Linked DNA regions of Homo sapiens: all the other regions are linked to region 1. Evidence: fine-mapped expression QTL. A gene starts in region 1. Each other region holds a variant in brackets. All regions are shown on one strand. Distances are from middle to middle. Region 1 holds the start of SCP2 (sterol carrier protein 2). Region 2 overlaps SCP2 (sterol carrier protein 2). Region 3 overlaps ZYG11B (zyg-11 family member B, cell cycle regulator).

Region 1 (5,661 bases):
CAAAATAAATAATGAAAATGAAAACAAAGCACAATAACAAAAATTAAAAACATGCCTTAGCAAAAATAAAACTAATATATACACAAAATCAAAACATACAAACTAGCCAGGCCCGGTGGCTCATGCCTGTAATCCCAGCACTTTAGGAGGCTGAGGTGGGTGGGTCACCTGAGGTCAGGAGTTCAAGACCAGCCTGGCCAACATGGTGAAACCCTGTCTCTACTAAAAATACAAAAATTAGCCAGGCGTGGTTGTGGGCAGCTGTAATCCCAGCTACTCAGGAGGCTGAGGTGCAAGAATCGCTTGAACCCAGGAGGTGGAGGTTGTAGTGAGCTGAGATCACACCACTGCACTCCAACCTGGGCAACAGAGTGAGATTCTGTCTTAAAAAAAAAAAAGAAGCAAAAACAAAACATACAAACTATAATTGGGTATAAGATTAAAAGAAAAACCTTCCCTCCTCCATATTCCATGCATTTATTGTATTCTATTTTATTGAGACAGGGTCTCACTCTGTTGCCCACATTGGAGTACAGTGGTGCAGTCAGTTCACTACAACCTCAGACTCCTGGGCTCAGGGGATCCTCCCGTCTCAGCCTTCCGAGTAGCTGGGACTACAGGAGTGGGCCACCACACTTGGCTCATTGTTAAATTTTTTGTAGAGACAGAGGTCTCCCTATGTTGCCAGGCTGGTCTCAAACACCTGGCCTCAAGTGATCCTCCCACCTCAGCCTCCCAAAGTGCTGGGATTACAGGTGTGAGCCCCCATGCCTGGCATCCACCCATTTAAAAAGATTTTTCTTGTTTTTTCTTCTTTTTTTTTAGAGATAGGGAGCTATGTTGCCCAGGTTGGTCTTGAATTCTTGGGCTCAATCAATCCTCCCATTTTGGCCTCCCAAAGTGCTGGGATTACAGGCATGAGCCACTGTGCCTCGCTGCTTTTTGTCTTTTTGTATTAACAGAAAAGGTCTCACTATGCTGTCCAGGCTGGAGTGCAGTGGCTATTCACAGGCATAATCGTAGCTCACTGCAGCCTTGAACTCCTGGACTCAAGCAGCCTTTCTGCCTCAGCTCCTCAAGTAGATGGGATTACAGTCTCGTACCACCACACCCAGCTTAAAATGATATTTATTGTATTTTATCTGGCATTTCTGGGTGTTTTTTTTTGGTATACTTATTCATGCCACAAAGTAAGTGGTACTTATATAAGTGTACAGTGATTTTCCAGGTTCCTTTCTAACATAGCTTGCTTAAATTCACAGGTCGACTAATGTTTCATTTCATGTGCATGCTAAGTGAAGCTGGTTAGTGATGACCATAAGCAGGTGGAGAAGCTTTCAATATTTTACTTATTTTATCAGTACTCCTGATTTTATAAATGATGAGGCTCATTAACCCCATTCCTACTCAAATCTCCTGATAAACTTGGTTATAATAGGGCTTCATGGGGATCCAAACATTTTTAATAATGTTTTGAAGCATCTTGGTGTGGGACAAACAGCTCAGGCTACCCCAGAGCCCCACATCCAATGACTTAGAAAAGTCTGTGTTTTATAGTGGGAAAAGTTTGGATTATTTAGTCCTTCACATTGGAAAGGGAAGTGTTTTTTCTCAGTCTTTTCGGTATTAACAAATACCTTTTATATTACTATCTATCCCCTCTGCCCTCTATGGACTCTTATTTTGAAAGCAATATCCAGTGGACAGCCAGGATTTGTTACATAACAATTAATCTTGACCTTAGGACTTGTTGTTCTATTAGGTTGGTAACTTTGTCTGATCCACCAATCATATTGCTGTCTTGTCAGTCCATCAGTTTCAAGAAACAACTGTACATGTCAGTGCCCTGATTTGTGTTTGTTTTTCTTTTTTTTTTTTTTTTGTTTCGTTTTGGTTTTTTAGAGACGTGGTCTTGGTATGTTGCCCAGGCTGGAGTGCAGTGGCTATTCAGAGGTGTAATCATAGCACATTTGTAGCCTTGAATTCCCAGGCTCAAGTGATCTTTCTGCCGAAGCCTCCTGAGCAGATGGGAGGCGTGCATCACTGAGCGCAGCAATTTTACTAAGTTGGTCTAGTCCTAGCTCAGTAGTTCTTTACTTAGCACAGAGGGGGCTTCTTAGAATCTCCTAAACTTGATCTTAGCCAAATGGCCAAGAAGCAATCCTTAGAATCTTCTAGGAGAGCCTTTCTAAATGCTGATACTGCAAACCGAAAAGTATATGAAACGGATCTCAATTAATTTAGAAGTTAATTTTGCCAAGTTTAAGGACGTGCATCATCTTTGGAGACAGGTCCGTGCCTTTCTCCAAAGATGATTTTGAGGGCTTCAGTTTTTATAGGGGAAGGGGCAGATATTGGGGAAAGATGAATAAATTTTAAAAAGATGTGGGTAGATAAGAGGCAAACGGTTGCATTCTTCTGAGTCTTTGATCAACCTTCACATGTGAGGGGGGTAGAGAAATAGTCACTTATGCATTCATCTAGCTCAATGAATCTGCATTTTTACATAAGATAAAATAAACCGGGGAGCCGGGCGCGGTGGCTCACGCCTGTAATCCCAGCACTTTGGGAGGCCAAGGTGGGTAGATCACCTAAGGTCAGGAGTTCCAGACCAGCCTGGCCAACATGGCGAAACCCCATCTCTACTAAAAATACAAAAATTAGCGGGGCGTGGTGGCGCGCGCCTGTAATCCCAGATACTCGGGAGGCTGAGGCAGGAGGATTGCTTGAACCTGGGAGGCGGAGGCTGCAGTGAGCCGAGTTCGCGGCATTGCACTCCAGCCTGGGCGACAGAGCGAGACTCCGGTCTCCAATAAACATGGAAGGCTGTTTCTCCCCGGTTTGCTGGAATAAAGTCTCTGTCTTCCAAATTCCTTTTCGGAGAACTTTTGTTCACAAGATTAAAAAGGTCACGCAGCTGGTGACGGAGCCTGGGTTTTTTGATTTAGACATTGTATCCATGTGTGAGATCCTGCCCATCCCCGCTTTCTTGGTGTCCTGTGAGTTTAAATTCATGAATTCACTCTCAACTGCCACCGCTAACAGGACACAGGCCAATTCCAACACGAACCCCAACGGCTCTCCTCAGGGTCACCTTTCATGAGTCCGCTTTCCGGCCAACCCCTCCTCTCAGTCTTAGGCCCCACTGCAAGCCTACTCCCGCTCACCGTACAGAACCTAAGCACAGGATCAGAGATGGGGACAGGTTGACTCAGTCCCATGCCCAAGTCCGCAAATTAGGGATTCGGCTGCCTAAGGGCTAGAGAACGCTCCCCGCCCCACAGGACGCGCCCCACCCCGCCCCCTCCTCCTGCCCCTACGCACGCGCACTCTCACGCGCCTGTGTTGCCGCCCGCGGCCCTGGCTTCGGGCTTCAGGGAGCTCTGGTGCAGTCTCCGCCTGTCAGTGCCGGCAGTCGTCCGCGGCGCCCGCCCCGGTCCCGCACTGGTGCAGCCATGTCCTCTTCCCCGTGGGAGCCTGCGACCCTGCGCCGGGTGTTCGTGGTGGGGGTTGGCATGACCAAGGTAAACCGAGCAGCGGCCCTGCTGGCCCTCTGAGGCTCGGGGGCGGTCGGTGCCTGGGTTTCTCTGTCCCTCCGGTCTCCTAGCTTCGACTGCTCCGCGCGTGGGTCATCGGCGTGGCGACTTGGTGGCTTGTACTCTGCGGAATCTCTGGGGTCATAGCGTCTCGGGCTGGTTCCTGCGGCCTTCTGCTTCCTCCTTCCCTTTTCTTCTGGTCAGAGTTCATGAAGCAGCCCCGAGATAATCCAAGGATCTCACCTCTTTAGATTCTGAGCGGAGTCCCGAGGTGTGTGGGCTGGCTTGCCCCGGAGGGAGGCAGGTCGCGAATGCCGCCTGCTCGGCCCTCCCAGGAACAGCCCCCACAGGAGCCCTCACAGAGACAGCTCCAGATGTGGATGGCGAGGAGAAACGCTCCTGATGCCCAGCGCCTCGGCCCGAGTGGCAGATTCCGGCCTCCCTCTGTCCCTCCAGTGACTGCTTGGGACCCGGACGCCGCAGGCTCCCACGGCCGTTTTCCCCTCATCGCCCGCATGCTCCTTAATGCCAAACTGCCTTTCGTTTCTCCCCGGACGCAGTTGTCTGATGCCTCTGTTGCTTTGCTTCTGTTCTGTTTGTACCGTGTATCTTCACCTGTTAACTTTTGTGCATCCTGAAAGGATCCGTTCAGATCGGATCTTCTCCAGGACGCCTCGGATCCTCCTGACTTTCCCCTAGAGCCTTGCACTGTGCTTACCTCTGTCCTGCACTTACTGTGCTCGGCAGTACCGGGCAGTACTAAAGCTCATAGGCGTCTGCGCGCCCTCTTAGCATGGCAGCTCCTCTAGACTGGGTACCTGGCTTATTCACTGCTGTGCCCCTCGCCCTGAACGTTCCTGATGCTTGAAGACCCTCAGTGAATGTTAGTTGAACAATACTAAATGGATATGCTTTGTGAAAGAGTTCCTAGGGAGAGTTCTATTTCTGAGAAAACAGCCCTAAAATGTTTATTATTTTACCAGTGGGCTGAGCGTACCTAATTCAGTCCAACATGTAAATAGGCCGGGGCCGGTGGCTCACGCCTGTAATCCCAGCACTTTGGGAGGCCAAGGCGGGTGGATCACCTGAGGTCAAGAGTTCGAGACCAGCCTGGCCAACATGGTGAAACCCCGTCTCTACTAAAAATACGAAAATTAGTCGGGCATGGTAGCACACGCCAGCTACTCGGGAGGCTGAGGTGGGAGGATTGCTTGAGCCTGGGAGATGGAGGTTGCAGTGAGCTGAGATCACGCAACTGCACCCCCAGCCTGGGCCATAGAGTCAGTCCTTGTCTCAACAAAAACAAAAAATATCCATGGAAATGGAAAAGTGGACCAATACCTTATGAAGCGGAAGGACATCATCCTAGTGTTTCACAGAAGGGGAGGCTTCTAACACAGGTGGACAGTAGGATCTTTCGAAGTAAGGTATTAATGCAGTCAAACCTTCCTCTGGCTGCTGAATGCCTGATTATATGTGCTGTATGGAAAAGCACAGTTGTCTAAACCTTTGGGAAATAGATGTATTCCTTTTTCCTCAAGTTGGGAGGTAGAGGTCGGGGAGGTGTTACAGTCCAGAGGAAAGTGGTGAGGAGTTTGGGTAGTGCCATTAATGATGTGCCTATCTGGCCAGTGTACTTTGCTATAGGTCTGGTCTTCTGCACCTTGGGACAGAGTTTGATGGAGGAGGGAGAAATATTGACTAGACAACACTGTAACACTTTTTTTTTTTTTTTTGGAAGACGGAGTTTTGCTCTGTCAACCAGATGGGAAGGCAGTGGTGCAATCATAGCTCACTGCAGCCTTGAACTCCTGGACTCTAGCGATCCTACCGAGTAGCTAGGACTACAGGCATTCTACCATACCTGGCTAATTAAAAAAAAATTTTTTTTGTAGAGACAGGGTCTCACTACTTACTACTAGATGGGTCTCATTTCTACCATATATTACTGTTATAATTTATCATAATACTTTATTTTTATTTTTTGAGACAGAGTCTCACTCTGTCCCCCAGTCTGGAGTGCAGTGGGGCGATCTCAGCTCACTGCAACCTCTGCCTCCCAGGTTCAAGTGATTCTTCTGCTCAGCCTCCCAAGTAGGTGGGATTACAGGTGTGTGCCACCATG
Region 2 (5,000 bases), 64 kb after region 1:
CTTAAATAATCTTCATTAATTGATGAGAATTTGAATTAATTAAAACTAAATTCAGGATGTTTCCAAATAGAGATCTTACTAGACCTGCTAAATAAGAATCATTTGAAATGAGCATGTTATTTATATGTAGTTGTATACATGGTTGACATTGCATGGAAATTATTTTCTCTTGAGACAACTGGACTAGAATTTATAAAGTAAGAATTTTACTATGGCTCTGCTGTTGACTGGCTGGCCGTGTGAAACTATTTTTATCAGTCAATCACTTTAACTTTTAATTCCTTAATTATAAAATGACAAACTTGTACAATGTGGTTTCTGTTTTTTTAAATAAAAAATTAAGCCCAAACCTCACCATGCAATTCCTTTTTTCTTTCTTTCTTTTCTTTTTTTTTTTTTTTGAGATGGAGTCTCGCTCTGTTGCCCAGGCTGGAAAGAAGTGGCACAATTTCGGCTCATTGCAGCCCCTGCCTCCCGGGTTCAAGCCATTCTCCTGCCTTAGCCTCCTGAGTAGCTGGGACTACAGGCTTGTGCCACCATGCCCAGCTAATTTTTGTATTTTTTTTTTTAGTAGAGATGGAGTTTCACCATGTTGGCCAGGCTGGTCTTGAACTCCTGACCTCAAGTGATCCACCTGCCTCAGCCTCCCAGAGTGCTGGGATTACCGGCATGGGCCACACACGGCCACAACATGCATTTTTAATATATCACAGTCTACCTTCAAATAGTGTTATGCCATTTTGTATATAACGTAAGATTTTTACAGCTGCCTATCTATTTACCTTCTCCTATCTTTTGTGTTATTGTTTCCATACACTTATTCCTAAGTATATTATAACCCTCACAATATACTATTATTATTGTTGCTTTAAACAATCTAATATCTTTCAAAGAAATCTAAGAATTATGGGGATGATCAGTGATGTTATGGGAAGTGGCAAAATAACAACATCCAAAAATCCTGTCCTTTATAAAAGTTCGGAGAACTCTGGCAAAAATTGTCAAGATCAACTTTTTCCATAACTTTAAAAATTAACCAGATTTACAACAATCTGTTGGGAGTGGAGGTGGGGGGTGCTTAAAACAACAACAAAGAACATAATCTCTGTGAGAGCAACGAGCTTTGTGGCATTTTCACCTGCCTTAACACCTCCCTCTTTCTGCAGCTCCACTGTAGCCTTGAAAACCTACAGCTTGCAGTCATGGTGAAAATTAGCAGCCTAGCTGGCACTGAGCAAGTCAGAACAGAGTTGGAGCTCTTTCAAAGCCCCTTCCTTAGAGAACTGTCATTATATGACCTGTCTGACAGTGTCCTGGTAAACCCCACTTGAAAGCTTTGTCTTTATTTCACCTCACTGAAAACTCACCCAGTGCAAAGAGTATTTTCCCTAGAGGCAATTGTCGAGAAAAATCAGCCACAACTGTTCAACAAAGTAGCTACCTCAGGTGCCAATTGGGGTAAACAACAAAATAACCAAAAAAAAGGAAAAGTTGGGGAGTAGGATGTCCATAGGGGGCTTTGAAAAGATCTGATATGTTCCTGAGAATCTAGAAGCCTAATGGCGTATATAAGGTCAGAGTTGTGTGCATGCTCAGGAAAGACCTGAGAAGGTCCTAAGCTCACCTCTGGCTAAACTTGGGGCTCTGCACAAGCAAAAGGCAAAGGCTAAGGTAGAATTGTAAACTGCCTGGCTGAGTACCACATTATGCAGGTAGAGGTCCAGTAAAGACCAGGAGACTTTTTAGTTCAGTCATTTAAGGACATCTCTGTCCAGTCAGTAGCTGAGGGAAGAGAAAATTCAGTGGCCATGTGGGACAAAGATTACAGACTTTATAGAATTAGCTTGGAAAAGTCACTAAATAAACAACCACAACAATAAACAGCAACAACAACAACAACAAACTGGGAAAGAGGAGGATTTGA[T/C]TTTTAGAGAAGCTACATTATTTAAAATGTCCAGTTTTCAACAAAAAAAAAGAAAGACATGCAGATAAACAATAAAGGGTGACCTATGTACCTAGGAAAAAAAGCAGTCAATAGAGACTATCCCTGAGGAAGCCAAAACATTGGACTTACTAGACAAAGACTTTAACTAGCTATTTTAAATATATTAAAGGAAACCATATATAAAGAACTAAAGGAAAGTATGAGAACAATGTTTCTCCAGGTAGAGAATATTAATAAATAGAAATTATAAAAAAGACAACCAGGCACGGTGGGTCAGGAGATCAAGACCATCCTGGCTAACGCAGTGAAACACCGTCTCTACTAAAAATACAAAAAGTTAGCCAGGCGTGGTGGCGGGCGCCTGCAGTCCCAGCTACTTGGGAGGCTGAGGCAGGAGAATGGCGTGAACCCGGGAGGCGGAGCCTGCAGTGAGCCGAGATCATGCCACTGCACTCCAGCCTGGACGACAGAGTGAGACTCCGTCTCAAAAAAAAAAAAAAAAAAAAAAAAAAATTAAAGGTATAGGTGGAGAAGAAGAACCATTTAAGAATAATGAGAGGGAATGCTCAGTTAGCCAAGGAAGGAGAGTGTTTCAAAAGTAAGAGATTAGGCCACAAAAGTTAGATAGATAAAGAATGAAAAGTGTCCTTCAGATTTGGCTGTTACAAAGTCGTTGGCAATCTTGGAGCAATTTTGAAGAAGTGTTTTGCATGGAAGCAGATGAGATTCAGAAAGAATTATAAGTGAGAAAGTGGCAATAATAGTGCAGGTACACTTTTAGAAATAGTGGCTATGAATGGAAAGTGATATATATGTAAGGGATGTACCTGAATTATAGGTACGTGTTCTGTATGAATGAAGTCTTGGGTTTGAACCTAGCCTCTTCACTCTCTTTAGTATGTAGCTTAGCCAGTTAATCCTAGTTTCTTATCTATAAAATGGGAATATAGTACCTACCTTATAAGGCTGTTCTGTGGATTAAGTGAGGAAATATATGTATGTAAAGTATATAGTAGAGTCCCCCAAAAAGAGTAGGAACACAATAACTTCCAGAATTCCCTTCCCAACTACAAAAGGGAGCCATGATGGATCTGCTTAACTGGTTCTTGTTTGTTTGTTTGCCAGTAATAAACCTCTTGTTTTTTTTTTCTTTTTTCTTTTTTTTTTCCTTGAAACGGAGTCTTGCTTTGTCGCCCAGGCTGGAGCGCAGTAGCGCGATCTTGGCTCACTGCAACCTCCGCCTCCCAGGTTCAAGCGATTCTTCTGCCTCAGCCTCCCAAGTAGCCGGGATTATGGGCATGTGCCACCACGCCCAGCTAATTTTTGTATTTTTAGTGGAGACAGGGTTTCACCAGGTTGGTCAGGCTGGTCTTGAACTCCTGACCTTGTGATCTGCCTGCCTCGGCCTCCCAAAGTGCTGGGATTACAGGCATGAACCACCACGCCCAGCCCAAACCTCTTGTTTTTATCACAGTATGAAAAATAATTTTTAACCATTTTTGGAAAAGAATGTTCTTTAATTTGGTTTTTTTTTTTGTGATAACAGATCAATTTTAATTCTAGTACCTGAAGCTATACAAGGGTATGCTCTATAAACTTCATGGGACTGTTGTACACACTTGATAAAGTGACAACCGTGCAATACCACTTAGCATCTCAAAATCAGGAACATACTATTGAATTGCTTAAATACAATCCACAGAATTAAAAACAAAATCAGATGCCATCCACAGTTATACTAATTATCCATTAAAAGCTTACACTTAATACTTGAAATAACAATCAATATCTAGCAGGGAATACTGAAAGTGATTTCAGAGTCTCATCCTGTTGTACTCTGTTGGGAAGGTTTCTTGAGTAGATGTGTGACTGGCCAAAGATGGGTACAACCAAGACCAGACCAGCAAGTAAAAGTTCTACCACAGTTTCTGTAGTTTCCACTTGTTTTTCTTTGTCAGTTAAAAGTGAACAGTGAGAATTAAATACTTATCTTTACATATACACAAGGTATGCTATGAAAGCGTATCTGCTTACAAACATATAAAAATATTTGTTAACTAGTTTGATAAGAAAATAATGTATAAAAGTATATAGCAAAAACATTAATCATCTCTGACCCCAGAAAGATCAATTCCATATTTTATATTACAAACAAAAACAGTTTTAGTTTTTTGAATCCCTTACCCAGAAATACTTGAAAAGGAAGACAGACAGAAATTATTCCTTTTTACCCTTAGCGTGGCTGTGAAAAAGAGTTAAATTAAAAAACCAAGTACACTCAAATATCTAAGTCCTAAATGAGTCCAAATATTTGACCACGTAGAATATTACCATCTTCAAGAGTAGGAGCAGTAACACAGGCTTTTATGAGCAGTTTTTAATCCATAAATACAATAGGCATTTGGTATTTTGGCCACCAGAAAACAAAAGTTGTAGTATAAGTAAAGGTCTGAGATGGTTCACTTTTGTAGATTCAATTCAGTGTATTTAAGGTTAACAAAGGCTGACATTGAAATGTTTAAAGATAGGCAAAAATTCACATTAAAAAAACCCTATATTTCTATTTAGAGTAACAGTAGGCAGTGTGATTCCAAAAGTTAAAAATTATTTCACAACCTGTAGCTTCAGCTTGGCAAACAGCTTAGATTCCAAAACTGATTCATCTCTATTAAAATGTAAGCACTTAAAAAAAGAGCATGTCTGTGTATATAGACATATATTTTAAAGGAATCAGATAATCTTTGAAGCAGCCTTAGTGTTTCCTTTAAGTTTGTCTGGAAATGACCATTGTATTAGCTTCACAGAAAGGACTAGCCAGCTTCTTGGTCTAAGGCTAACATGGTGATCATTTGTCTAAGGCTAGAAAGGTACCAACAAGATGTAAACTGAGGAGAGGAAGAGAAGATGAGGGCTTTTCCTGGCAGTTGGTAGCTAAAACTGAAGGGATTCTAGAAAATGACACAATGGCAGCCTTTCTTGTCTTTTTCTTTCCGTGTTGGTTCTGGTGAAGGAGGACATTCCTGCTCTTGAAATTTCCTGATAACCCGGACAAGTT
Region 3 (5,661 bases), 150 kb before region 1:
ATTCCAGTAACAAGAGTTCTTTAATTTTATATTCAAGGTAACTTGAGGATATATTTCGTATAAGAGATTTATAAAGCTGTTGGAACCAACCAAATGTGGGTAAAGGAAGAATAAAGTCTGATTTAGATTATTTTATATTTCCCTCTTAGAGTTTTTTTCATTTCACATTTCAGCATTTTTTGTTTTTTTCTGAATTTATAAGAAAAAGTTCTGGGTGATTCAATGAACTGAACACTTTGAAAAATTTTATTAAATACCCATTTGTATATGTGAATATGTAGTCCAAACCAGTTTGTGTATGTATGTTATACATAAATAGAAAGTTTAAAAAGGGTTTAAAGAAGTAAAGTAATGGAGGCTGGAAGTGGTGGCTCATGCCTGTAATCCCAGCACTTTAGGAGGCCGAGGTTGGCTGATCATTTGAGGTCAGGAGTTCGAGACCAGCCTGGCCAACATGACGAAATCCCGTCTCTACTAAAAATACAAAAATTAGCCGGGCGTGGTGGCGGGCGCCTGTAATCCCAGCTACTCAGGAGGCTGAGGCATGACAATTGCTTGAACCCGGGAAGTAGAGGTTGCAGTGAGCCGAGATCGTGCCACTGCACTCCAGTCTGGGCGACAGAGCAAGACCGTATCTCAAAAAAAAGGAAAAAAAAGAGAAAAGACGTAAAGTAATGGAAGTAAAGAAACTTTTATTATTATTTCAACAATCTTAGAAATTCTTCATATGTACCCTTGTGTCATGTGACATATATCAATACTGTAGTCTAATTCATTTCAGACTCTTGTAGCATATCCTATTAATGGTTGAAATGTCAACCATGATACATCCCTTCATTTCCTCAAAGCTGCATATTCCAATCTGAACGTTTATAGGCTTTTTTGTTTTTTTTGATAGAGTCTCACTCTGTTGCGCATCATGGAGTGCTGTGGCACAGTCATGGCTTACTGCAGCCTCAAATTCGTGGGCTCAAGCAGTCCTCTTCAGTCTCCCAAGTAGCTGGGACTACAGGCATGCACCATCACACGTAACTAATTTTTCTTTTCTTTTATAGAGACAGGGTCTTACTATGTTCCCCAGGCTGGTTTTGAACTCCTGGGCTCAAGTGATCCTCCTGCTTCTACCTCCCAAAGTGCTGGGATTACAGGCATGAGCCATCATGCCTGGCTGAATATTATATGTTTATATACAACTTAGTTACTGAGTAATATATTTTTAAAATATTTGATTACTTTTGTGTCACACTGTATAATGTTACTGCCAAAAAAGACTAAATCTTCCCCTTATTATGAGATAGTCGCTCTGAATGACGTTTTTTGGCATTTTTTAAAACTTTATTGTAAAATAAAACAGAGACAAAGGCAGTAAATAATTATATAGCTTAATGAGTTGAAAATAAAGTGAACACACTTGAGACCATCACTCAGGTTAAGTAACAGAACTTTGTCATCTACCCCAAAGCTCGCTTCAGCCTCCCAAAGTGGTGGGATTACAGGCGCGAGCCACTACACCCAACCATGTCCTTTCATTTCTTTATAATTTTATGACCCAACTATTTAGGCACCTGTATAATCTTGTCTGTTTAAAACAATTTGATGTCTTTTGAGTATCTTTTAGTTTATAGGTTTCTCCTCATCCCTTTCTTTTCCTTATAATTTGTTTATTGAATAATCTATCGTTTGGATTTGTAGAGTTTCCCTCAGTCTGGATTTTATTGTATTTGTTGATGTTTTGTAGAGACAGGGTCTTGCTGTGTTGCCCAGGCTGGTCTGGAACTCCTGGGGTTAAAGTGATGCTCCTGCCTCAGCCTCCGAAAGTGCTGGGATTACAGATATAAGCCACTCTGCCAGCCTGGATTTTGCTGATTGTATACTAATGGTGCATCTTTCTCTTTGTATTTTCTGCAAATTGGTAGCTGGATTTGGAGGCTTAATTAGACTTACGTTAGATCCCTTTGGCCAGACCCTTAGGTGTTGTATTCTTACGTTATGAGGTACATAAATATCTAGTTGTTTCTCTTTCTGTGATGTTAGCAGTTATTGACACTTAGTAGCTAGATCTATCAATTCATTGGGGATTATGGTGATATTTTAATCATTTATTTTTCACTTACTAGTTGGATTACTTTTATAAAGAGCCACTTTCTGCTACCTACGTTTGGTTGCCGAATGGCACCTGAACTACATTTTAAGATAAGCGTATTATCTTAAAATAATATACTTTTATGTTGGGAATCCCTAGAAAGACTTAATTTTAAACAGAACCTCTTGGTGCTGAAAAGGAGCGTGATAAATCTGGGGAAATTAATTGATACATTTATTTGATGAATACTTATGGAGAAAGTATTCTGAGCCAAGCATAACGCTAGCTATTGTGGTACAATGGTGAATGGATCAATGTAGTGGGGGATTATGATAATAGCTCTGAAAGAGATGTTTCAGGGGACCTAACTTAAATCAGTGGCTCAACAAAGACTTCTCTAAGAAAGTGTCCTTAACTTGAATAAGGAAGAATGAGTAGAAATTAGTCAGGTAAAGAGAGAAAGGAAGTTTTCAGTCAGAGAGGACATTGTATGAGTGGTCCTTTGCTGAGAAAAAGCTTGACTTACGGAA[A/G]GGTGAGGAAAAAAGGTCATACAGTTATAACATTGTGAGCTAGAGGGAGGGGATTAAGAGGCAGATAGGATCCTAATCAAGCGGTAGGGCCTTATAATAGTGTTAAATATCTTGAGATCTATTTTAGGTATAATACAGAAAATTTCGCCCATGGTCTTATGCTAGGTTCTGAGCCTATCTAATATACATCTCTTCAAGACAGATATAGCTGTTTAAGATGACTAATCTGGATAGATTGGAAAGTATAGTCATTTTTATTTGATCCCAGCTTTACATAACTATCCAAGATACCATGTATACAAATGATATTTATTTATTTATTTAGAGACAGAGTCTTGCTGTGTTGCCCAGGCTGGAGTGCAGTGGCGTGATCTCAGCTCACTGTAACCTCCGCCTCCTGGGTTCAAGCGATTCTCCTGCCTCAGCCTCCTGAGTAGCTGCAGTTACAGGCATGCACCACCGTGCTTGGCTAATTTTTTATTTTTAGTAGAGATGGAGTTTCACCATGTTGGCCAGGGTGGTCTCGAACTCCTGACTTCACATGATCCACCCACCTTGGCCTCCCAAAGTACTGGGATTACAGGCGTGAGCCACCGCGCCTGGCCACACATGATAATTAGATAGAGAAAGAGAGAGAATTCTAAAAGCTAATCTGGTTATGTTCACAGGTGTCTGGGGAAGCCAATGAAACTCAGATTGCAGAAGCACTGAAGCGTTACAGTGAACGGGCATTCTTTGTTCGGGAAGCTCTATTTCATCTTTTTAGTCTGACTCATGTGATGGAAAAAACAAAGCCAGAAATTTTAAAGGTAAGAATAAGAAACTGGATATGAAATTTTTGAAATGATCTCCCTGGGCAGATGATTTTTTGAAGAAAATTGGTGAAAATTTGCATTTAGTCTTTTTTTATTATTTATAATGTGATTGATGACGTGTGATTTCAATCATTAGCTATAAACGAGAGAGAAGATAGTTGTACAATGTTATTGAAGCTTCACAATAATCTCATTAAGCAATATAAATGTCTTGTAGTACATATTTATCTACCTAAAACCAGTGACTACCATGATATTTTATCACCAGCTACTGTAGAAAATGAAAGTATATGACTGGAATCAGGACACTGTATTGTATATTAACCCTATATTGCTTCCCAAATAGATTTTTTAGAAATACAATATTGCACCAAATATGGTAGTTCATGCCTGTAATCCTAGCACTTCAGGAGCTGAGACAGATGGGTAGCTTGAGCCCAGGAGTTCGAGACCAGCCTGAGCAAGATGGCAAAACCCCATTCCTACAAAAAGTATTAAAAAAATAAAAAAAAGAGAGAAGTAAAGACAAAGCAAATATTGAAATTCTATAAGGTACTTTTCCATGCTGTTTAGAACCTACTATGCATTCTTAACTGATTTACATTACTCCGCAATTAAGTTTTGTTTTGTTTTTAAGACATAGGGTCTTACTGTGTTCCCCAGGCAAGAGTGCAGTGGCTGTTCACAGGCCTCAAACTCCTGGGCTCAAGCAATCCTGTCTTAACCTCCCAAGTAGCTAGGACTACAGGTGTGTACATCACAGCACCTAGCTATTTTAACCAAAACAGCTTTTGAAGGGCAAGAAAGGAGATTTCTTAATTTTATTGAATGCTTTGGGCAACATTTATCAAAATGTGGTCCTTTGGGCCAGGACGCAGTGGCTCACACCTGTAATAACTTTGGGAGGCTGAGGCAGGTGGGTCACTTGGGGCCAGGAGTTCTAGACCAGCCTGGCCAACATGGCGAAACCCCATCTCTACTAAAAATACAAAAAATTAGCCAAATGTGGTGGTGCACGCCAGTAATCCCAGCTACTCAGGAGGCTGAGGCATGAGGAACCTGGGAGGCCGAGTTTACAGTGAGCCGAGATCGTGCCACTGCACTCCAGCATGAGCAACAGAGCAAGACTCTCTCAAAACAACAACAACAACAACAACCAAAGTTGTCCTTTAACCACTAGAAGTCTAGGATGTTGCTTATTTAAAAAGCTTATTTGTGGCCAGGCATGGTGGCTCACACCTGTAATCCCAGTACTTTGGGAAGCCAAGGCAGGCAGATCACTTGAGCTCAGGAGTTCAAGACCAGCCTGGGCAACATGGCAAAACCCCATCTCTACAAAAATTACAAAAATTAGCCAGCTGTGGTGGCACGCACCTGTAGTCCCAGCTACATGGGACACTGAGGCGGGAGAATTGCTCAAGCCAGGGAGGCAGAGGTTACAGCGAGCTGAGATCATGCTACCACACTCCAACCTGGGTGACAGGAGTGAAAACTTGTCTTAAAAGAGAAAAAAAAAAGATATTTGTAAACCCCACTCCCAAAAATTTAGATTCAGTAGGGCTAGATGAGGCACAGGAATCTACGTTTTAATAAGCCCCCAAGATAATTCCAAGGTAATTCTTACGCACGTTCAATTTTGAAAACCAATGAGCTTAGGACTCTATTATATTTGGCACCTCATTTAGTGGGCACAATTCCAAGAGATGGGTTTTATCTTCTGTTTTACAGATAATGAAATTGAGGTTCTGTGACGTTAAGTAATAATAAGTCAGTGGCAGAGCCACAACTTGATATCCTACATATCTTAAATTCTGAGAATGAGGCGCTTGGGTAGGAACCAGTAACATTTTAGTCCTTAGGATATTATCACCAACACCTGTCACTCCTTTTATATATATCAGAGGATGTTGGCACTTGGTATATGAATTGTCTTTTTTTTTTTGTTTTGATTACTGTGAACTGAGCAACAGAAGACTAGATCTCTAGTCTTGATCTGAAATATTCATTCAGACATTCAGAGAATGATTCAGAGATAAATGGAAGAATATAGGCTATTTATTTATTTATTTATTTGTTTATTTATTGAGGTAGCATCTCACTCTGTCACCCATGCTGGAGTGCAGTGGCATGATCATGGCTCACTGCAGCCTCGACCTCCCTCCTGGGCTCAAATGATCCCCCTTCCTCAGCCTCCAGAGTGGCTGGAACTACAAGCTAATAACACCATGCCTGG

The links. PIP is the estimated chance that this variant, and not a neighbour inherited with it, causes the effect. A credible set is the group of variants that fine-mapping cannot tell apart.
Region 2: its variant is the best candidate, but not a certain one, in a credible set for the expression of SCP2 in whole blood (INTERVAL, PIP 0.73).
Region 3: its variant is the best candidate, but not a certain one, in a credible set for the expression of SCP2 in whole blood (INTERVAL, PIP 0.70).

What each region holds. Positions count from the first base shown.
Region 1 is chr1:52,923,942-52,929,602 of GRCh38, forward strand. SCP2 (sterol carrier protein 2) reads left to right here and starts at 3,335. Exons shown (of 16, transcript NM_002979.5): 1 at 3,335-3,524. The coding sequence starts at 3,456. It also overlaps the pseudogene LOC100652967. RefSeq lists a silencer at 3,098-3,377 and enhancers at 3,430-3,945, 3,598-3,657, 3,668-3,757.
Region 2 is chr1:52,988,303-52,993,302 of GRCh38, forward strand. The region is part of intron 11 of SCP2 (sterol carrier protein 2); the gene reads left to right. It also overlaps the pseudogene RRAS2P1. Among named protein-coding and RNA genes, the nearest start is that of SCP2, 64 kb to the left of the region's middle. The variant T/C (reference allele first, on the strand shown) is at 1,925.
Region 3 is chr1:52,776,572-52,782,232 of GRCh38, forward strand. ZYG11B (zyg-11 family member B, cell cycle regulator) reads left to right here. Exons shown (of 14, transcript NM_024646.3): 4 at 3,282-3,422. Among named protein-coding and RNA genes, the nearest start is that of ZYG11B, 53 kb to the left of the region's middle. The variant A/G (reference allele first, on the strand shown) is at 2,614.